2 separate regions of the Homo sapiens genome follow, and region 2 is linked to region 1. The links come from fine-mapping of genetic effects on gene expression. A gene starts in region 1. The other region holds a variant in brackets. All regions are shown on one strand. Distances are between the middles of the regions.

The links. PIP is the estimated chance that this variant, and not a neighbour inherited with it, causes the effect.
Region 2: its variant is fine-mapped to the expression of GPRIN3 in whole blood (TOPMed, PIP above 0.99).

The regions. Positions count from the first base shown.
Region 1 is chr4:89,306,032-89,308,953 of GRCh38, reverse strand. It overlaps GPRIN3 (GPRIN family member 3), which reads left to right and starts at 1,154. Exons shown (of 2, transcript NM_198281.3): 1 at 1,154-1,339. RefSeq lists silencers at 1,075-1,144, 1,155-1,204.
Region 2 is chr4:89,237,198-89,240,119 of GRCh38, reverse strand. GPRIN3 (GPRIN family member 3) reads left to right here. Exons shown (of 2, transcript NM_198281.3): 2 at 1-2,922. Among named protein-coding and RNA genes, the nearest start is that of GPRIN3, 69 kb to the left of the region's middle. The variant A/G (reference allele first, on the strand shown) is at 1,245.

The DNA of each region.
Region 1 (2,922 bases):
CGAGAGCGCGCCACTGCACTCCAGCCTAGGAGACGAAGCAAAAAACAAAAAACAACAACAACAAAAAACTAAAAAAGCGTTTCCTCAGTCCCTACCCCAGACCTATTGGATCACAATCAGCATTTTAACAAGACCCCCTAGGTGAGTCCTGTGTACTAGATGAGAGGATATATTTTGGATTGGTTTGAATCCCAGCTGAGCAGGTTACTACTGTGTGACCTCAAGCAAAGTGTTTAGATCATATAAGCCTGTTTCCTCGTCCACATGGTAAGGCACCTCAATGGGTTGTAGTAAGAATTAAAGAGGCTGAGGCTGTATGTAAGGCATTTTTCACAGAGCCTTCCAACAAATACCCAGTTAATAATGAAGCTCTTTTCATCGTATCATTTTGCACCATCTACAGCTGCTAACCATACTACACATCCATTCAGGATTCTGGAGCTGCTCAACAGGGAAGATTTCCAAAGCCCTCAAAGCCCTCCAAGCCCATGGGGTAGCGGGAAGGGGATGGGGACAGGAACACTGTCAGCAGTGCCTCTCCGAATACGCAGGATACTGTACATTTTGCAAAACATATTACTTATCGGATGATCTTGCTTTCAGATCTCCACTGCACGTGGCTTTATTGGAAACCTTCTGCTAGAGTCTAGACTCAGCCATGGAGTCTGGTGACCTGTGGGAGGGAGCAAGGGCCAGAATGCCTGCTAAATCGCTCTGGGTCCCCAGCCCTCTTCCTTAATCCCTTCTTAACTTTCCATCTGTCTCTGGTCTCCAGGGGTGCAGAACCACAACCCACCAGACCCCTCCTAGCTCCCGGCCCGGCGCTCAGCAGCCTGGGCTGCAACACTTTCCCCCAGGACCGGGAAGGCGGGGGAGGGGGTTTGGAGGGGGCGGAGCTCGGCCTCCTGCTGCCGCCGCTGCTGCTGCCGCCGCCGCCGCCTGCAAAGCTGTCGCCCCTCTCTCGGATGCTCAGGCTGGGCAGCGCTGGACAGATGGGTACACCCCGGGCCTGACGGATGAACAGTCGGGCAAGTGAACTCTCACCTCCAAACTGGCTCTGCGCCCGGCGGGGGCGGCGGCGGCGTCTGCAGCCCCGCGGTGGGGGCAGCCCCCTCGGTCTACGCCCGACTGCTGCGCGCCGCCTCTGCTCTTGGCATAGTAATTTCAGTTCCTGAACGCACGGAGCTCGCTCCGGGACCGGGCTGAGAAGGACCTCAGCTCGCGGGCCCGCCGGAGCCATCGGTGTGGCGCCGAGAGACGGTGCTTGGGATATGCGACGGGAAGCCCCCGCCACAGCGCAGGCAGTGGCCCCGCCGCGCCGCGGAGCCGGGCAGAGCAGGTAGGAGACGCCCCCTGCGCACCTCCGCCTGGCGGCCAGCGCGGGGGACCGGAGCCTGGTGGTGTGCTCTGTAGGGATGCGGAAGGGATTCGGTCCCACATTTTGCACAGGGATCCTTTGCCTGTTGCTCTTGTCTCTGTCCCATCCTGCGCTCTAGGAGGGGCAGTCTTTCTCGCAGGTGATGAATTTCTCTGCAAGGTCATTGCTCTCTTTGGCTCTGGCTTTGAAGGTAAATGGGAGAAGACGCCTGCTGATCGTGGGCAGGGAAATTTATAATCAATCGGGTCTGCACACTGCGAATATCCGAATATGAGGGGTGTGTGTGTGTGTGTGTGTGTGTGTGTGACATTTGTCTCATTTTCCTATGCTTATCCCCTTTAAGGTCAAAACATAGAAATATATATTACATATGGATGTATGTATGTGTGTGTATATACACACACATACATAAATGCATATGTAAATAGGTTTTCTTGAGGTAGGCAGAAAGAAGAGGAAGGGCGGGCAGGGGTTGATAAAGGGAAATCGTTGTAGAGACATGTTCACTAATAGAGGCGAACTTTGGAACCACATTAAATCAGGGTAGAGACTAGAGGTGATAAACGGTTCTTTCAAGATGGGCTTTAGAAGAGGTCTGAAGGAGCCTGTCAGCCAACACACACAGAAGATCTTCATGCTCTCCAGGCAGATGGAAACGATGTAGGCATCATTTCAGACGCAATAATGGACAGTGAAAGAGGGAAAAAAGGAGAGGTACTTAATATGCCACTGGGAAGTGAATTTTGGGTGATGGGAAGGCATCGAATCCAGACCAGGTTTCAAGGGCTTTCTGGAGGGCCATTGGGAGAAATCACCGCTTGGGGTGTAGGCAGTTCAAGGTTAAGACGATGTGAATGTCCACAAAGCAGCCGAGGAGGTGGGCAAAAGGCAAGGGCTTGGAGGGGGAGGGGAGAAACAGAGCTCTGAGCAGTCACTCAAGAAGCACCCACCTTTGAGTAAGGTGTCTTCTTCCTCTTGGTTAAAGCGGTACTTGGGTATGCTCCATCTAAATATTTTCACAACACATTTGTTTAAAGATCCATTGGACTATGTTTTTATTTTGTTTTTGCAAGGTATCTGGGTCATGGTGGGACTAGAAGAAACTGAAGTGTTTACAACACCAGCAAGATTTGGGAGAGAGGGTTGATTAAGGCTTTGCTTCATGAAATATTTACACATCTCCTGCGTGGGCTTTTGTTTGCTCTTGTTGGTGCTGCTGCATATTTTACTTTGATAATGCTTTGAGTGTACTTCGCCCGAATGTGCTTATTTTCCAGTTATAACCTATTCTTTCTTTTCCCATTGTGCTCACCATTGGCCTGCCCTGAGTAACAATTGTGGGAATAAAGGTACATGAGTCACAGCCCAAAGCAGAAAATCTCTGCTGCTATCTGCAAAAGACAGGAGTTTGCGTTAGAGAATGTTCTTTTTCGAGTTTTTGTGTGTGTTTAGTTTTTCAAGTTTTGTGTGTCTTTAATCGAGGGAATAGGTTATTGATTCAAAAGAGAAAAAAAAAACAGCAATTGCAATTGCAGGCCTAGATG
Region 2 (2,922 bases), 69 kb after region 1:
TTGATATTGTTCGAATTTATCTCATTTTTTCTCAAAGGAAGTGCTCTATTAGGGATCAAAAAGTCTCACCTGGTTCTTAAAACCTAACACAATTTGACCTTGAATCCTCGACACTAAAAATTACGTTGGTTGGGTATCAGATTGAAAATATGCATGGAGGCTGGGCGTGGTGGCTCACACCTGCAATCCCAGCACTTTGGGAGGCCAAGGCAGGCAGATCACCTGAGGTCAGGAGTTCAAGACCAGCCTGGCCAACATGGCAAAACCCCGTCTCTACTAAAAATACAAAAACTAGCCGGGCATGGTGGTGTGTGCCTGTAATCCCAGCTACTCGGGAGGCTGAGGTGGGAGAATCACTTGAACCTGGGAAGCAGAGGTTGCAGTGAGCCAAGTTCGCGCCATTGCACTCCAGCCTGGGAGACAGGGCAAGGCTCTGTCTCAAAAAAAAGAAAATATAAATGGAAATACCAGAATCACCCCTTGATAGAGAATTCCATTTGGCAAAGTACAAACAACCACTTCTCAGTAGAAAGTTAAGAATAACATTTAAAAACATATTCATGTTTTAGAGAACGAATGTGCCATCGTTGTATATTAAATAAAAATAAAAGATTAACCAGCTATAAGAACACTACAATTACAACTAGAGTGGCAGTGTTTTTTAACTAATAAAAGTATACATGTTTATAAGTGCAGCATACCTGAAATCTTGATGTTTGTCAATACTTATGGTTGCTTCAAAGATAAATTTATGTGATTATTTTTGAAAGATGTGTATTAATTTGAATAATACCCAGAAAAATTATAACTTAAAAATTGCAGTTTTCAATATGAGAATCATTTATGTGTGTAAATACTCAACTAAGAAAGATCAAAAGTGTGGTATAATATTACAAGAAAAAATATTCAAAATGGAAAGTCCATTTATGAATGTATTAATATTAAAATCCAAAGTTATGTTTTTTTATAATGTCTACATTATAATGTTTACAAAGGCCATAAAATCATTTCAGAAAGTTCTCATCCTCCAGATATTGACCAATAAAACTTCATTTCCTAGAAAAAAGAAGAAATGTTATAATTTATACAAAGATGAAGTAAGATTTTGGAATTACGTATACTTACACCTTCATTTTGGATTTGATTTTTGAATGGATGCTTAAAATTCTGATATTCAACTAATGACTTAGTTTTACCATCAAAAAATTTAGATTATGATTTTTTTGCATCTCACTTTTCATAAT[A/G]AATGTAATATAGATACAATTTATTCTGTTTTTTGTTGATGTTATTATTGTTTCCACTGCTATTGAAATCGTTCTTTTAACCATGAATGTGCAGAATCAGTTGATTTTCCATGTGACAGCTTCTGCTAGGAATCTGCAGTGGAACTGGAAGTATTTGCAATGAAAGAACTTTTTTCTTTAATTAAAATAGAATTCCCATAGAATCAACAATTCCTCCTGGTCATCAAACGCGAGGTTTTTCCTGTACTTGGTAGAGCAGAGTGTGTGTGTGTTTGTGCGTTGTGTGTGTGTTGTTTGGTGAGAATGATGAGAGCTGAGCATTGTGAAAATACAGGCGGGGGTGGGGTAACAGAGCTGGGTAGGGGTCCAGGGCGCTTAGATTGCCTTATTGTCCAGGCTTAGATGCCTCTTACCCAGAGCCATCAGGTGTACCCTATATAGCTCCAGCCTTTCTGCCTACTCCTGAGAAGATAAACTGGGATCCTGCAGTCTGGATTCCTAGAAGGAGATGGAAAGCCCAGCCATATCCCCAGTTTGACTTGACCAGTAGTAAAACTAGCACTACAGTTTGATCCCTTTTTACCTCCTTGAATATCTTCAATTCATCAAGGATCTGTAAAGAAGGAGAGGTACAAGATATATGAAACCCAAATCTCAAAACAATGATTTAGTGAATTTCCCATGAACTTTAAACAGTGATTGCTTCAAAATTTCCAAGAGCCATACTCTCCCTCCAGCTGCTGTGTGTGTGTGTGTGTATAAATGCACACTATTTTAACCTAAAATGGTGCCCTGTGGCTGCCATTCTCTAACTCTTGCATACTTAAACATTTATTCTTGGTCAAATTAAAACCTCATGCATTTCCAAAGATATAAATGCCTTGCCTGGAGAAGTTAGATCTTGCAAGTCTCAGGAGGGCCGAGATGGTTTGTCTTATGCCTATAGCTGTTTATGTCCCACCAGTGGGTGTTTGTTTCATTAGGTGCCGTTTCCAGCCAAATGTTCTCATTCTTCACATCTTCAATGTTGAGTAGCAAACAGAAGAACATCCTTCTTAGCATAATATTGCTTCACTGGACTGATTGTGAACTCAAAATACCTCTTGTTTCTTGTGAAGGGTTTGCCTTTTGTAAACAATATAAGATCACTTTTGGTCAACCACCCTGTCTGAATTTATCTGGGCTGCTATAATAAAGTATCATAAACTGGGAGGCTTGTAAATAAATTTATTTCTTACAGTTTTGGAAGCTGGGAACCCCAAAATCAAGGCCAATTTGGTGTCTGGTGAGGGCCTACTTGCCGGCTCACGTGTGGTGCCTGTTTGCTGTGTCCTCACACAGTAAAAGGGATGAAGTGTCCCCTCCCGGGCCACTTTCAAAAGGGCACTAATCTCACTCATGAGGGCTCTGTGACCACCATCTAATCACCACCCAAAGCCCCCACTTTCTAACACCATCGCCTTAGGAGTTCAGACTTCAACATGAGTTTTGGAGGGATACAGACATTTAGACCATGGCATACACATTCTTAATGAACTTCTGAATGCCACCATTATTAAATTTTCTTCAACACCATTCTACACAACCACTGAGCTAATTGACAGAGTTCTAAAATGTTTAGACCCTTGTAACTACCTTAGCAATGTTCTGAAGCTGGTTTTTCTAAATATATCACAGA